2 separate regions of the Homo sapiens genome follow, and region 1 is linked to region 2. Evidence: fine-mapped expression QTL. A gene starts in region 2. The other region holds a variant in brackets. All regions are shown on one strand. Distances are between the middles of the regions. Region 1 has its middle 12 kb from the start of GP1BA. Region 2 holds the start of INCA1 (inhibitor of CDK, cyclin A1 interacting protein 1).

Evidence for each region.
Region 1: its variant is fine-mapped to the expression of INCA1 in prefrontal cortex (GTEx, PIP 0.93).

What each region holds. Positions count from the first base shown.
Region 1 is chr17:4,915,744-4,924,259 of GRCh38, reverse strand. No RefSeq gene overlaps it. Among named protein-coding and RNA genes, the nearest start is that of GP1BA, 12 kb to the left of the region's middle. The variant C/A (reference allele first, on the strand shown) is at 3,856.
Region 2 is chr17:4,994,167-5,002,166 of GRCh38, reverse strand. It overlaps INCA1 (inhibitor of CDK, cyclin A1 interacting protein 1), which reads left to right and starts at 4,645. Exons shown (of 7, transcript NM_001394789.1): 1 at 4,645-4,671; 2 at 7,692-7,773. The coding sequence starts at 7,730. It overlaps KIF1C (kinesin family member 1C), which reads right to left and starts at 4,217. Exons shown (of 23, transcript NM_006612.6): 1 at 4,011-4,217; 2 at 2,197-2,317; 3 at 1,815-1,947; 4 at 1,319-1,395; 5 at 766-945; 6 at 43-108. The coding sequence starts at 1,920. RefSeq lists enhancers at 1,290-1,900, 1,901-2,512 and silencers at 3,755-3,854, 3,905-4,774, 4,815-4,904.

The DNA of each region.
Region 1 (8,516 bases), 78 kb after region 2:
ATCCCAGCACTTTGGGAGGCCGAGGCGGGCAGATCACTTGAGGTCAGGAGTTTGAGACCAGCCTGGCCAACATAGTTAAACCCTGTCTCTACTAAAAATACAAAAATTAGCTGGGCGTGGTGGCAGGCGCCTGTAATCCCAGCTACTCGGGAGGCTGAGGCAGGAGAGTCATTTGAACCCAGGAGGTGGAGGTTGCAGTGAGCTGAGATTGTGCCACTACACTGCAGCCCGGGTGACAGAGTGAGACTCCATCTCAAAAAAAAAAAAAAGTAATTAATTAAAGAAAATGTGATACACACACAAACACACACCATGAAATGCTATGCAGCCACTAAAAATAATGAAATCATGTCCTTTGCAGCAGCATGAATGGAGCTGGAGGCCATTATCCTAAGTGAACTAACTCAGAAACAGAAAACCAAACACTACATGTTCTCACCTATAAGTGGGAACTAAACAATGGTTACACATGGACATAAAGATGGAAATAATAGACATTAGGGGCTTTGAAAGAGGGGAGCTTGGGAGGGAAATGAGCATTGGACAATTACCTAATGGGGCCAGGCACGGTGGCTCACGCCTGTAATCCCAGGAGGCCGAAGCGGATGGATCACCTGAGGTCAGGAGTTCGAGACCAGCGGGGCCAACATGGCGAAACCCCGTCTCTACTAAAAATACAAAAATTAGCCAGGCTTGGTGGTGGGCACCTGTAATCCCAGCTACTCGGGAGGCTGAGGAAGGAGAATCGCTTGAACCCAGGAGGCAGAGGTTCTGGTGAGCCGAAATCGGGCCACTACATTCCAGATTGGGCGATAGAGCAAGATTCCGTCTCAAAAAAAAAAAAAAAAAAAATTACCTAATGGGTCCAGTGTTGACTGTTTGGGTGATGGGTACACTAGAAGCCCAGTCCTCACCAGGATGCAATATATTCATCTAACAAATATGTACATGTACCCCCTGAACCAAAACTAAAATAAACATTTCAGAAAAGAGCTTGGGGATGGTGGCTCATGCTTGTAATCCCTGCACTTTGGGAGGCCAAAGCTCGAAGATTGCTTAAATTTAGGAGTTTGAGACTGGCCTGGGTAACACAGTGAGGCCTCATCTCTACCAAAAACAAAAACGAAAACATTAGCTGGACTTGGTGGTGTACTTTTTTTTTTTTTTTTTTTTTTGAGACGGAGTCTTGCTCTGTCGCCCAGGCTGGAGTGCAATGGCGCGATCTTGGCTCACTGCAAGCTCCACCTCCTGGGTTCACGCCATTCTCCTGCCTCAGCCTCCCGAGTAGCTGGGACTACAGGCGCCCGCCACCACGCCCAGCTAATTTTTTTGTTTTGTTTTTAGTAGAGATGGGGTTTCACCATATTAGCCAGGATGGTCTCGATTTCCTGACCTCGTGATCTGCCCACCTCGGCCTCCCAAAGTGCTGGGATTACAGGCGTGAGCCACCGCACCCAGCCTGGTGGTGTACTCTTGTAGTCTCAGCTACTGAGGCAGGAGGATCGCTTTAGCCCAGGAGGCCAGGGCTGCAGTGAAACATGATCATGTCACTGCACTCCAGTCTGGACGACAGAGCCAGACCCTGTCTCCCTGTCTCAAAAAAAAAAAAAAAAAAAATTAGTCGGACATGGTGGCAGGCACCTGTAATCCCATCTACTCCAGAGGCTGAGGCAGGAGAATTGCTTGAACCAGGGAGGTGGAGGGTGCAGTTAGCCGAGATCATGCCATTGCACCCCAGCCTTGGTGGCAAAAGTGAAACTCTGTCTCAAAAAAAAAAAAAAAAGAAAAGAAAGAAAAAAATTATTTATTTTTTTGAGGAGAATTCAGGGAAGAAATGAGTTGGGTTTGTTTGTTTTGTTTTTCTATTTTATTTATTTATTTTTTGAGACAGAGTCTCACTCTGTCGCTTAGACTGGAGTGCAATGGCACAATCTCGGCTCACTGCAACCTCCGCCTCCCGGGTTGAAGCAATTTTCCTGCCTCAGCCTCCTGAGTAGCTGGGATTACAGACATGCGCCACCACACCCGGCTAATTTTGTATTTTTAGTAGAGACGGGGTTTCTCCATGTTGGTCAGGCTGGTCTCGAACTCCCGACTTCAGGTGATCCGCCTGCCTCGGCCTCCCAAAGTGCTGGGATTACAGGAGTGAGCCACTGCACCGGCCCTGAATTTTTAGTAGAGACAGGGTTTCACCGGGTAGGCCAGGCTGGTCTTTGAACTCCTGACCTCAAATGATCCACCCGCCTCGGCTTCCCAAAGTGCTGGGATTACAAGTGTGAGCCACCACACCTGGCTCCGTGTAGTTTTTTTTTTTTTTTTTTTTTTTTGAGACAGAGTCTTGCTTTCTCACCCAGGTTGGAATGCAGTGGTGTGATCACAGCTCACTGCAGCCTCCGCCTCCTGGGCTCAAGTGATCCAAACACCTCAGCCTCCCAAGTAGCTGGGACTACAGGTGTGCACCACTACACCTGGGTAATTTTTGTATTTTTGGTAGAGATTGGGTTTCCTCATGTTGGCCAGGCTAGTCTTGAACTCCTGACCTCAAGTGATCCGCCTGCCTCCCCAAGTGCTGGGATTACAGGCGTGAGCCACTGCGACTGGCCTAGACTAGTGTTTGACCAAACAACTGACTACTACTATTAGTCTGGCCAAGTTGACACATAAAATTATCCATCACATCATACCTTGGATGTTTATTGTAAACTGCAATACATTTTAAAGTTTACAATAGGCCAGGTATGGTGGGAGGACGGCTTGAGCCCAGGAATCCCAGACCAGCCTGGGCAACAGAGCAAGATCCCACCTCTAAAAAAAAAAAAGAAAGAAAAAAAGTTTATATTAAAAAAAAATCCATCTGAGAGACTTCTGCTTATGGGAAGATGGAGTACACTTTCTTTTACCTATTCCACCTGCTAAATACAACAAAACCCTGGATATTATACATAAAACACAAAAGCTAAACACGGTGGCAGGTTCCTGTAATCTCAGCTATTCAGGAGGCTGAGGCAGGAGAATCGATTGAACCTGGGAGGTAGAGGTTGCAGTGAGCTGAGATTGCACCACTGTTCTCCAGCCAGGGCAACAGAGCAAGAGTCTGTCTCAAAAAACAGAAAAGAAAAGAAAACAAAAATGAAAAATGAAAAAACAACCCACTATTCTAGATGTTGCTGTGAAGGTATTTTCAGATGTGATTAACCTTTAAATCAGTATGCTTGGAGTAAAGCAGATTATCTTTCATAATGTGGGTGGGCCTCATCCAACCAGTTGAATGGCTTAGGAGGAAAGGCTGAGGTTCCCTTGAGAAGGAAGGAATTCTGCCTCCAGACTGACTACCTCTGGACCCAGGATTACGTAAACTGTTCCCTTGGTCTCTAGCTTGCTGACTCCCTAGTCAAGGTTTTGGACTTGCTAGCGCACATAATCATGAATCATGTCAGCCAATTCCTTAAAATAAATATTTGTCGTGTGTTTGTGTGTGTTTGTGTGTGTATGTATACATCCTATTGGTTGTATTGGGTCTCACTCTGTTGCCCAGGGTGGAGTGTAGTGGCGTGATCATGGTTCACTGCAACCTCCTGGGCTCAAGCCATCCTCCTGCCTCAGCCACCCGGGTAGCTGGGACTACAGGCGCGTGCTACCATGTCTGGTTATGGTTCTGTTTTTGTAGAGTGCCCTGACTAGTACCCATGATTTTCACTTTCTGGAATTTTTTTTTTTTTGAGACAGGATCTGTCTCTGTCACCCAGGCTAGAGTGCAGTGGTGCAATCACGGCTCACTACAACCTCCGCCTACCAGGCTTGAGCAATCCTCCCACCTCAGCCTGCCCAGTAGCTGGGACTGCAGGCACATACCAC[C/A]ACACCAAGCTGATTTTTGTATTTTTAGTGGAAATGGGGTTTCGCCATATTGCCCAGGCTGGTCTGGAACACTCTTGCCTTGGCCTCTCAAAATGCTGGGATTACATTAGCGAGCCACCAAGCCCGGCCTCTGGAATTTGTTATTCTCTTTATGTTCTATGTGCATTTTAAAATAATATGTATTCCCTGTTGAGATAATATATACTCTCAAATCCTGTATACTTTTTCTTATTTTTTGTGTACTTGATCTGTCCATTTCTGGGCGAGGTATGTTAAAATCAAGCACCCCAATTGTGGATTGTTCACTTTATTCTTTATTTCCATACAATTTTACTTTATTTTAAAGCTATGTTTTTAGATAGACAAATGCCTATGACTATTAGCTAGTCAACTTGCTGGCTGCTGTAACATATTACCACAAATCGAGTGGCTTGCGAAAATAAAATGTATCCTCTCACAGTTCTGGAGGCCAGAAGTCTGAAATCGAGGTGTCCCCATGGCCACACTTCCCCCGGAGGCTCTAGGAGAGAATGCTCCCCTGCCTTTTCCAGTGTCTGGCAGCTGCCAGCATTCCAACGCTTTCCTTGCTTTTGGAGCTTTATCATTCTAATCTCTGCTAGTGTCTTTATATCACTTTCGCTTCTGTGTGTCTGTGTCTTCTCCTCTCCTGTCTCTTATAAGGACACTTGTCATTGATTTTCGGGCCCTCTTGGATAATCTAGAATCATCTCCTTATCTCAGGTCCTTAATTCATTTACATCTCAAAGTTCCTTTTTCCAAATAAGGTAACATTCACAGATGTCAGGGATTAGGATATGGATGTATCTTTTGAGGGGGGCCATCATTCAGCCCGCTACAACCATGATAGCTTCTTGGTATATTATACCTTTTATAAAGATGAAATATCCCCCTTGGTCCCTTTTAATGCTTTCTGTTTTGAATTCTTTTGTTTGGCATTAATATTGCTATATTTGTTTTCTTTATATTAGTATTTTTATGCCATAATTTATTCTCTTATTTTCCAGATTTTTTTTTTTTTTTTTTTTTTTGAGACGGAGTTTCACTCTTGTTACCCAGGCTGGAGTGCAATGGCACGATCTCGGCTCACCACAACCTCTGCCTCCCGGGGTTCAGGTGATTCTCCTGCTTCAGCCTCCTGAGTAGCTGGGATTACAGGTGCCCGGCTAATTTTTTGGTATTTTTAGTAGAGATGGGGTTTCACCATGATGGCCAGGATGGTCGCGAATTCCTAACCTCAGGTGATCCACCTGCCTGGGCCTCCCAAAGTGCTGGGATTACAGGCATGAGCCACCATGCCTGGAATTTTCCAGCTTTTTACCAACTTGTTTTTGTTGTCTCTTGCAAACAGCATGTAGCAGAATTATTTTATTTATTTATTTATTTATTTATTTATTTATTTTTGAGACAGAGTCTCGCTCTTTGCCCAGGCTGGTGTGCAGTGGTGCAATCTCAGCTCACTGCAACCTCCTCCTCCCAGGTTCAAGCGATTCTCCTGCCTCAGCCTCCCGAGTAGCTGGGACTACAGGTGTGTGCCACCATGCCTGGGTAATTTTTGTATTTTTAGTAGAGATAGGGTTTCACCATGTTGGCCAAGCTGCCCCTGAACTCCTGACCTCAGGTGATCCACCCTCCTCGGCCTCTTAAAGTGCTGGGATTACAAGTGTAAGCCACCATGCCCAGCTAGCAATCATTGATTTTTAACATAACATTTAAATGTAACTTTCTATCAAAATCTAGAATTAATAACTATTGATTGCCCCCAAAACAAGACAAGGTTCTTAGAATGTGTTTCGTTTTCTATCCCTACCCCTTCATCTTTCATGAGATATCACCGAGAATTTAAATTATAGATTACTACTTCCATTGTATTTTATGTATTTGTTTACTTATTTATTTATTTTTTGAGACAGGGTCTCGTTCTGTCACCCAGGCTGGAGTGCAGTGGTGCGATCATAGTTCACTGCAACCTCTAACTCCTGGGATCAAGCAATCCTCCCAACTCAGCTTCCTAAGTATCTGGGACTAGAGGTGCCCACCACCACATCCAGCTAATTTAAAAATTTTTAGGCCAGGCAGGGTGGCTTACGCCTGTAATCCCAGCACATTGGGAGGCTAAAGCAGGCAGATCACGGGAGGTCAGGAGTTCGAGACCAGCGTGACAAACATGGTGAAACCCCATCTCTACTAAAAATACAAAAATTAGCCAGGTGTGGTGGCAGGCGCCTGTAATCCCAGCTACTGGGGAGGCTGAGGCAGGAGAATCGCTTGAACCCAGAAGGCGGAGGTTGCAGTGAGCCGAGATCGTGCCATTGCACTCTAGCCTGGGTGACAAGAGCGAGACTCCATCTCAGAAAAAAAAAAAATTTTAGTAGAGATGAGGTCTCACTAGGTTATCCAGGCAGATCTTAAACTCCTGGGCTTGATTCTCCCACAACTGCTTCCATTTTAAAACATCAGTTAGAGCTTTCTTAGACTTACCAATGCATTAGCTGCTTTCCTTGCTTACTGTTGCTTTGTGAGTCTCATGTCTTCTGGGATTCTGGGATGACATCTGTCACTCCTTTCAGCTGCTCAGCACCCGAAGGCCTTTTCCTATGCTCCAGACCTCCCACATCATGAGCAAGACCCTGCCTCTCACTAGCAAATGGGAAAGCACCAGACCCTTGGTTCCTTTGCAGCCAGACCCCAGGCATCTCTCTGGGGCTTCTCCAGGCAGGCTTTCCTGTTTGCCTGAAGGGCCACACCAAATCTGAACAGGGCACCAGGAGGCAATTCCACTTGGTCTCTACCTGCAGGATGGGCCTACTTCTAAGAGCAGCAACCATTTAATACGATATTTTTTTCCCCAGTGTCCTAAACACTTTTGAGTTAACATTAGTTGCCTAGGCTGGAGTGCAATGGTGTGATCTTGGCTCGCTGCAACCTCAGCTTCTTGGGTTCAAGCGATTCTCCTGTCTCAGCCTCCCCAGTAACTGGCGCGCCCAACCATGCCCAGCTAATTTTTTTGTGTTTTACTAGAGACGGGGTTTCACTACGTTGGCGAGGCTGGTCTCAAACTCCTAACCTCAAGTGATCCACCCACCTCAGCTTCTAGAAATGCTGGGATTACAGGTGTGAGCCACTGCACCCGGCCAGACATTATATTTCTAAGACATATTCATATTGATGTACCCACAGCTATAATTCATTCATTCGCAATGCTTTATTGTATTTAATGAGTAAAAGGCAGTTTTCCTTTCTGCTGTTTATGATCATTTGCCTTGTTTCCACTTTTTTCCCCCATTATAAATAATAGCCAGGCTCAGTGGCTCATAGATGTAATCCCAGCACTTTGGGGGCTGAGACAGGATTGCTTGACTGCAGAGGCTTGAGACCAGCCTGGGCAACATAGTAAGACCTCATCTCTGCTAAAAATGAAAACAAAAATAAATCAGCCAGGTATGGTAGCAGGTGCCTGTGGTCCCACCTACTCGGGAGGCTGAGGTGGGAGGATCACTTGAGCCCGGGAGGCGGAGGTTGCAGTGAGCTGAGATTGCACCACTGCAGTCCAGTCTGGGTGACAGAGCAAGACAACTGCCTCAAAATAAATAAATAATAAAATAAAATAAAATAATGAATTAATAAATTAAAATAAGAAACTGGGGGGCGATGTGAGTCCCAGACATTAGCATTTTTGCTAAGATTTTATTTTTATATAATTTAAAACTTACAGAAAAAAATACCAGAATAGTACAAAGAACTGCATGCCCTCTTCCCAGATTCACCATGTGTTAACATTTTGTCTCATTTGCTTGATCATATTGTCTTTCTCCCTCTTGAGTGTTTTTTTCTGGAACCATTTGAGAACAAGCTGAAGACATTATGTTTCTTTACCACTAAATATTTCAGTATGTGTTTCCTAAAACAAAGACATTTCCTTATATACTACAGTGCAGTTATTAATTTTAGGAAATATAACATTGATACAATACTCACATCCAATCTACAGTCCATAATCCCATTTAGCCAATTGTCCTAAAATGTCCTTGACGGTTGTTGTTTTTTGCTTTTTTTCTTTCCTGTCCAGAATCCAATCCAGGGCCATATCACTTTAATTTGCTTTAGTTCCTTAACCTGTCTTTATTTTTCATAAATTTGACATTTTTGAAAATTATAGTCCAGTAATTATGTAGAGTTTCCCTCAATTTGTCAGATGTTTCCACAAGGTTGTATTTGGGTTATGTTTTTCTGGCAGGAATATTACACCAGCGATCTTTCTTGGTGGGTCCTATCAGGAAACACATTATATCAATTTCACCCTTAATGGGGATGTTAACTTTGATCCTTTGGTTAAGGTGGCATCCGCCATGTTTCTCCACTGTGGAGATTCTGTTTTTTTACTTTGTAACTAAGGAGCACTTTCGTGGAGAGATACTTTGATACTATGTAAATATCTTGTTCCTTCTCAATCTCTGGCCTATATCCTGCAGCATCCACTGATAATTTTTTTTTTTTTTGAGACAGAGTTTCACTCTTGTTGCCTAGGCTGGAGTGCAATGGCGTGATCGTTGATCGTGGCTCACCACAACCTCTGCCTCCCTGGTCCCGGTTCAAGCAGTTCTCCTGCCTCAGCCTACTGAGTAGCTGGAATTACAGGCACG
Region 2 (8,000 bases):
GTCTGGACCCCTCTCAGCCCTGCCACCAAGACCCGGGCTTACCTCCACAGAGTAGGATAGCTGAGCACTCTGGTTCTCACTAACGCGAGAGAAGAGGTCCTCACAGAGCTGGAGGGGGACACAGGGAAATACAGAGAAGCTCCTGTTCAGGGCACACCTAAAGTGTCCAGCCACAGGCCAGGCCCAGTCCCAAGTGACCCCATTTAACCCTTGCTACAGCCTTGAGGGAGGGGTTATTCCCATTTCACAGATGGGAAAACAACCTCAGAGAGGTCCCCACTTGCCCAAGATCACAGGCTACCGTTCAGCCAGCCAGGGTGCAAACCCCAGGAGTTCTGACTCCCAAGCCCGTGTGCCAGGTTGCTATGCTGGACAGCCAGGGACAATTATGGTTAACTCCGTTATCCCAATTGGCGTTTCTACAGTTAACACTCTGCTGGTGGTACACAAGCCTGCAGGAGAACTATACTCACAAATTATTATGAAACCAAGTAAAACAGTAGTAAGTCGTAAAACTGGCGCTCGAACCCAAGGCTCACTGATGCCAAAGCCCTGCTCTACTCACTGAGGCTCGTTGCCTCTGATAGGGGCGAAGACCCTCCCACCCCAGAGGGTTGTCCAGCTTGCAGTCAACCTCTATCTCCCATCACCAATGGCCTCAGAGCCAGGTCTCTGTTCCATAATCCTCCGACCCTAGTCCTTCCTTCCTCAGAGGGCAGCTAAAGATGCTCCTGCCCTGGCTGCCCCACCAGGTCCTAGGCGTACCTGGGGCACGATGCCCTGCTGCCCTGGCTCCTGTCGCCCCATCATGGTATAGGATTTCCCAGCCCCGGTCTGCCCATAGGCAAAGATGCACACGTTGTAGCCTTCAAAGGCGTGGAGCAGCATCTCTTCTCCAATGTCCCGATACACTTGCTGCTGAGATGCAAACTGGGGGTCCTCCGTCTAGGAGAAAGTGGGGGCAGAGAAAAACAGAGTAACCCTGGATGTCTTTATCCTTTGTGTCTCTGTCCCAAGAGTCTTGCTTCCATCACTGACGATTCCCCAAATGTCCTGTGTGCCCTCCCACCCTCATCATTGTCCTTACCACCCCAAGGATCCTATCCAGCCCCTGCTAGTCCTAATTACCCCAAGGGATTCCGCCTTCCTGTCGAGGCCTCAATCACAGCCTAAGGGTCCTACCACCCCCACCCAGGATCATCCTCCCAATTCACCCTGACTAATCCCCTGGGGGTCCTATTTCTTAACATGTCCCCTCCCCAGGACCTAAATCCTCTGTCTCTCACTGCCTTGCTCTTCCCCCAGCCCAACAACCCACCGAAGTGTGTGACCAGTAGGAGTAGTCAAAGGTGAAGCTTTTGGGGGCATCCTTGCTCTGTTTAGGATTGATGATGGCTGAGGGGCAGGAGAGGGTAAAGGAAGGAAAGTCAAGGTCAGGTATTCCCAGTCCCTGCCCATACCCCAACCAGCCCCTGGAATCCAAGCATCCCACTCCTCACCACTGTCCTGACTCTTCTCTCCCCTTTAACATTCCCCACCCCCTCCAGCCACCAAAGCTAATTTTGGCTTCCTAGGACCCGCCCCCACTGAGCTGCCTCCCTGGATTGGGCAATGGAGGGCTCCAGGCCAACATTCCCCCTCCCAGGGACTGGGAACACGGGAAAGGCCAGCCTGCCCCAGCCCCCGCCCTTACGACTAGCACCTGCTCTGTGCCCAGCATTACCCTCCTCTTAGTTTGGCCCAGCGGGACTGGCCTGTGTGGTGGGCCCGGCCTTCCCTGCCTGTGCCCAGCCAGGCCCCGGGGACTCACTCACAGGTGGTGTTGCCCTGCATGCTGACCACACACTTGGCATCCTGGCTGGTCTCACGGGCGTTAAAGGGCCGAACCCTCACTGCCACTTTCACCGAGGCACCAGCCATAGCTCCAGACACTCCTGCCCTCCTCAGCTGGAGGACAGAGAAAGGAGTGGTGGGGTCAGAACCACTGCAGGGACCCAGACATTGCCTCCCAGCTTCTTCCCGGAACCAGTCTCTTCACATCTCCCCCAGAGCCACCCAGCCTCTCAAGGACCCAGCTCTTATTCCCTTGGCTTTCCTCCCAAATGTCACTGTCTTGAGAGACTCCCAAAGGTATTTCTGCCTCTCTCCCCAGCCATATTCCAGCTTGCAGGAACCTGGGCGGTCTCCCCCAGTTACCTGGCGTCCTGGCCCCAGACCAGGGGGGCTGTATCAGTTCTGGCTGCCACCGGCCCTCGTAGGGGGAGCCCCATCCTACTCCTGGGGCCTGGCCACACCAGCTGGGGCTCTGGGAGATACCCTGATTGCGGGGGAAGAGTTGTTAGAAGGCACCTGTGGTTCCAGAGACCCGTCTGGGGTTCCCAGGTTGGAGGGCCAAGGTTACGGGGGGAATAGCAGGAAAAGTACGGACAGCTGCCCCTCTAGAGTGGCTGAATGCAATGTGAATCCAAGGGCAGGGACGGTGATATTTTTATTCCTTGTCACTCGCAAATGTACTGAACGTTCAGATAGAGGACAGAGAGAGAAAGAGGCTGGACAGAGGGCAATTCAGAGAGAGGGGCACATGGGCAGAGACGTGAGGGGGGTGGGAAGAGAGAGAGGAGGGGCAGAGAGTCACAGACACCAAGAAAATTAGAGAAATAAGACAAAAGGCAAGCCTGAGGTCATGCTATGAAGGAAAGAATGGGAGAGGAAAGGAGGAAGAGACACAGCACAGCAAACACACGGTGTTAAAGAGACAGGGTGGGGAACTCCGGCGCCAAAGCACAAACTGGGAGCCCAGAAGAGAGACCAGAGAGGAAACTGCAAATGCAAAACCTGTCCTCAAATTCCCCCACAGTGTCGGCAAGGGAGAATCTAGTTTCCACCTGAGGCCCACAACCTCCATGCACCAGGCCAGTAGTGCAGATGGGCAAAGTCCAAGGACTGTAGGTAGGGCCCAGGACTGGGATCCACAGGGCCAGCTGTGTGGGCTCTAAGCCCCTTGCCCAGCCCCCAGCACTTCCTCCTCAGGATCCGGGACAATGAGCAGGGGAGGGTGGGGTCATCCTGTAGCCATCAGACCAACCCTCAGGGCTCCACCCTTGGGGCGCCCAGAAATACCTGTGTTTGAGGGTAGAGGGTCCCTGGGGCCTCCCTAAAAGGGAGAAAGAAAAGGAAGCCGGCTGGCTGGTGCCAGCCCCAACCTGGGGCTAGTGCTATGGCGTCCACTGCCCTGGGGAAGGTGCCAGGCTGGAGCCCAGGAATGTGGGTGATCGGGTGCCCACACCCTGGGAGGAGAGGCTGAGCAGCCCACGCCCACGGACAACAGGGAGGAGGACCACGAAGGATAAGGGATGCGGAGCCCCCTCCTGTGGCCCCAGTGGACCCCAAACTCCTGTCACGCTGGGCCTCCCCTCACCAGTCTTCCTGGGCAGAGCATGGGAGGGTGAGGGGCTGGTCTGTCCCAGGACAGGAAGGGAGTAGCTGGAATCACAGAAGCTGGCTCAGGAAGAACAGCCCTGACCCCCTAGACCCTGACCAGGGGAGGGAAGGACACTGGTGGGGACAAGCGATGGTGACGCCGTTGCTGCAGCTAATGGGACAGGGATGGGGTGGCACGGCTGGGGGCCAGCGGGGTAAGGGAATAGAGGTAGGGACAGGGGTCGGCCGGTGCAGCTGTGAAGGAGCCGTGGGGTACAAGGAGGATACTGGGCGGCTGGGGTGGGGCCGACCGGCCCGAAAGGGGGTCTTGGGCCACCTGCACCTTGCCCACCCGGCGGTTCTCACACAGGTCCCCGCCCGGCCTCTCAGGGCGGCCATGCGGACCCGTCCTCCTGTCCAGCCAGCCGGCGGCCGCCCGGGCCTGGCACCTCTCTGCGCCTCCGCGGAACAAACAGCACATGATCCCGACTCTTGAGCCTAGATCGCGCCGCCGGACCCCGGCTCCCCGCCCCCCAACCCGGCACATTCCTCCGCGGGCGTCCCTTCCCTCCCCCTTCCCCAGCCCTCACCTCGGCGCGGCGGGGCTCCCGGAGCAGCTCGGCGGAGAGGGACAAGCTTTCCGGGAAGCGTGAGGCGGAAGCGGGAAGGATCTGGGGCCGGTTCGGAGCTGCCCCCGCCCCTCGCCGGGTGCCCGGGCGGCGGGCGGCGGACTCGCGCCCCGGGGGCGGCAGCAGTAGCGGCGCCAGCGGCCGGCGCCCGCCCGGGCAGCGCGAGCTGGGGCGGGAGCGAGGGGCGGGGGACGCGCGAGCGCGCGCGGAGGGGCGGGTACGCGCGGTCCCGGGAAGGAGCCGGGAGCGACCCGGGCTACTCTTGTTAAAGGGGCAACGCTCCTGGCCTGTGGGGCCCAGCGAGCGGGAACGTGGGGACCGAGCTGCGGACGCAGAAGGGCGAGCAGACGCCGCAACCCAGGAGGGTTGCAGACGCCTGAAGAACAGGGAAACGTCGGGGGCTGACCCGCGGGGGCACCCAGGCCCCGGCCCAGTTCCCGTCGCCGCCGTTGGAGGCGCGTCCAGGGGGCGGAGCCTCCTGCCGAGGCCCGCCCAGAAGGTGGCTCCGCTCAGGCCCCGCCCTCAGACGAGCACCGCCCGCCGGCTCCTCCCGCGGCTCGAATCGCCGTCTCTCTCCTCCCCGCCCCGCCGAGTTCTAGAATTCGCCGCGCAGCTGCTTCAGGTGCTGGGGCCAAATGCGGCCGGCCGTGGCGCGGCTACTCGGGCGCTCTGTCCCCGCCTGGCCCTCAAGTTCGGCCGCCCTGGACGCCGCCTGAGGCCCAAACAACCCCTTCAGGCCCGGGTGCCGCCTAAGGCCGGAGCTGCCCTCTCAGACCCGGGGCGTCCCTCAGGCCCCAGCCTGCCCTTCAGCCTGGGCCCACCACCTCAGGGCCCCTCTCGAGGGAAGCAGCCCCCAGTCGTGCCCTCGGGCGGGGCTGCCCGGAAGGTCCGGCCACGCCCGGTCCACCTGTCGAGGGTCCCCGTCGCCCTTTCAGGCGCAGGCCGCGCCCTCCGGCCCGGCGCTTCCCTCCAGCGGGGCTCCAGGCAGCCCCTCAGCCCCAGCCGGACCCTCGGGTCCTCATCCACCCTCGCAGGCGCAGGCCGTGGCTACCCCGAAGTCAACTGTGGAGGATCCTTCCTGGCTTCCTTCAGCTCCATCCTGCCCTTGGATCTAGGTCACCCGCTTGGACCCAACTATCTGAGGCCCGAATGCCCCGCAGCTCCCGCTGCTCCCTCGCGTTCTGCTGACCCCCCTCCGAGTCAGGACATCCCCTTTAGACCCCACTTTAGGCCCTTTCAGCCCAACTCCAACTAGCCCCATCTGCCGCTTCCGCACGGTATACTTCTCTCCGCTTTTGACCTCACCTGCTTTCCCAGCCCATCCCTAGTTCCCTTGGATAAATACTAGTTCACCTCTACAGTTCCAGCTGGCTGCTTCTGTCCTTCGGGAGCCTATGTGCACTCTCTCCTAACTTATCTAGTATTCTTTTTTTTTTTTTTTTTTTTTTTTTGAGACGGAGTCTTGCTCTGTTGCCCAGGCTGACCTCGGCTCACGGCAACCTCCGCCTCCTGGGTTCAAGCGATTCTCCTGCCTCAGCCTCCCGAATAGCTGGGATTACAGATGCCTGCCACCACACCCGGCTAATTTTTGTATTTTTAGTAGAGACTGGGTTTCGCTGTGTTGGCCAGGCTGGTCTCGAACTCCTGACCTCAAGTGATCCGCCCACCTCAGCCTCCCAAAGTGCTGGGATTACAGTCTTGAGCCACCGCGCCTGGCTTTTTTTTTTTTCTTCTTAGAAACAGGGTCTCACTCTGACGCCTAGGCTGGAGTGCAGTGCAGTGGTGCGATCTTACCTCACTGCAGCCTTGACCTCCCGGGCTCAGATGACACTCCCACCTCAGCCTTCCGGGTACAAGCGCACACCACCACACCTGGCTAAACTTTTTCGTATTTTGGTAAAGAGGGGGTTTCGCCATGTTGCCCAGGCTGGTCTCAAACTCCTGGGCTCGAGCAATCCACCCACTTCCGCCTCCCAAATTGCTGGGATTACAGGCGTGAGCCAGTGTGCCCAGCCTTAACTGCCCTTTCTCCCCACCCCAACTGGCCTTCAGGTCATCTTTGGCTGTCCCTATATGCAACTGACCTCCCTATCCACAGGCATTCCCAACTGCCCCCTCCTTCCCTGTCACCAGTTGACCATTATGTCCACACTTAACTTTTTTTAATTTCTTTTTTTATTTTGTTAGAGACAGAGTTTCACTCTTGTTGCACAGACTGGAGTGCAATGGCGCGATCTCAACTCACCGCAACCTCTGCCTCCCTGGTTCAAGCAATTCTCCTGCCTCAGCCTCCTGAGTAGCTGGGATTACAGGCATGTGCCACCATGCCCGGCTAATTTTTGTATTTTTTAGTAGAGACAGGGTTTCTCCATGTTGGTCAGACTGGTCTCGAACTCCCGACCTCAGGTGATCCACCCGCCTCAGCCTCCCAAAGTGCTGGGATTACAGGCGTGAGCCACCACACCCAGCCAACTTTTTTTTTTTAAATAGAGATGACGTCTCTCTGTATTGCCCAGGCTGGTCTCCAACTCCTGAGCTCAGGCAATTCTCTTGCCCCAGCCCCGCAAAGTGCTGGGATTACAGGTGTGAGCCACTGCACCCGGCCCACACAATTAACTTTCACTAACCACTCATAGTTGATTCATTGAGAACCCTCAATTCTGTCACTTCTCTTACCCCCAAATGCCTCCACCCCACCCAGTCTCCACTGTCATCATTTTTCAATTTCATTGTCCCATATTGCCAGTTGTCGCTTAACTGCCATCTGTAAATTTCACTTATTCTGCACATTTAGCTTCAGAAGATTTGCTTTCTCCTTTATCTTTTTACCACATCCACTTTTCCTGTGCTCACTATCTTCAACCTAAATGTTCAATTAACAGTCCAGCACTACAAATACCTTTTTTTTTTTTTTGAGACAGAGTCTTGCTCTGTTGCCAGTCTGGAGTGCAGTGGTGCAATTTCAGCTCACTGCAACTTCCTACTCCCTGGTTCAAGTGATTCTTCTGCCTCAGCCTCCGGAGTAGCTGGGATTACAGGCATGCGCCACCATGCCCAGCTAATTTTGTATTTTTAGTAGAGACGGGGTTTCTCCATGTTGGTCAGACTGGTCTCGAACTCCCAACCTCAGGTGATCTGCCTGCCTCGGCCTCCCAAAGGGCTGGGATTACAGGCATAAGCCACTGCGCCCAGCCGCTACAAATACCTTTTAAGCTCTCTCTTTTTTCAGCATCCATACATTCTTTTTCCATTCTCTAGATCTGCTACTGGCCTCATCCCTACAGACATTATATGAATGAATGCCTTTTTTTTTTTTTTTTTTTTTTTTGAGACAGAGTCTTGCTCTGTCCCCCAGGCTGGAGTGCAGTGGCGCGATCTCGGCTCACTGCAACCTCCGCCTCCCAGGTTCAAGCGATTCTTCTGCCTCAGCTTTCTGGGTAGCTGGGACTATAGGCGCGCGCCACCACACCCGACTAATGTTTGTATTTTTAGCAGAGATGGGGTTTCACTATATTGGCCAGGCTGGTCTTGAACTCCTGACCTCATGATCCGCCCGCCTTGGCCTCCAAAAGTACTGGGATTACAGGCGTGAGCCACCACATCCAGCCCGAATGAATGACTTCTTTTCCATTATCCTCCCAGCACCAAAAAGGAGACTAACTACCCAGCCCCGTCCAGTCATGCAGGTGCAGGATGATGGAGTCAACCTCATCCCCTTTGCCAAGTGAGTCCTCCCACTGGGTGGGGAGCATGGGGATGGGATGGAGGGGATATTGCATGCCTGGGTCCTTCCCTAAGAGGATTAGGAAATAAAGAACGGGAAATGCAATGCCTGGTCTCAGGGGATTGATGATTCATTAATTTATTCAACAAATAGTTTGAACACTACAATGTTCCAGGGACTGTATTAGGCACTGGGGATTCAGCAACTAGCAGGATAGGGGTCCTGCT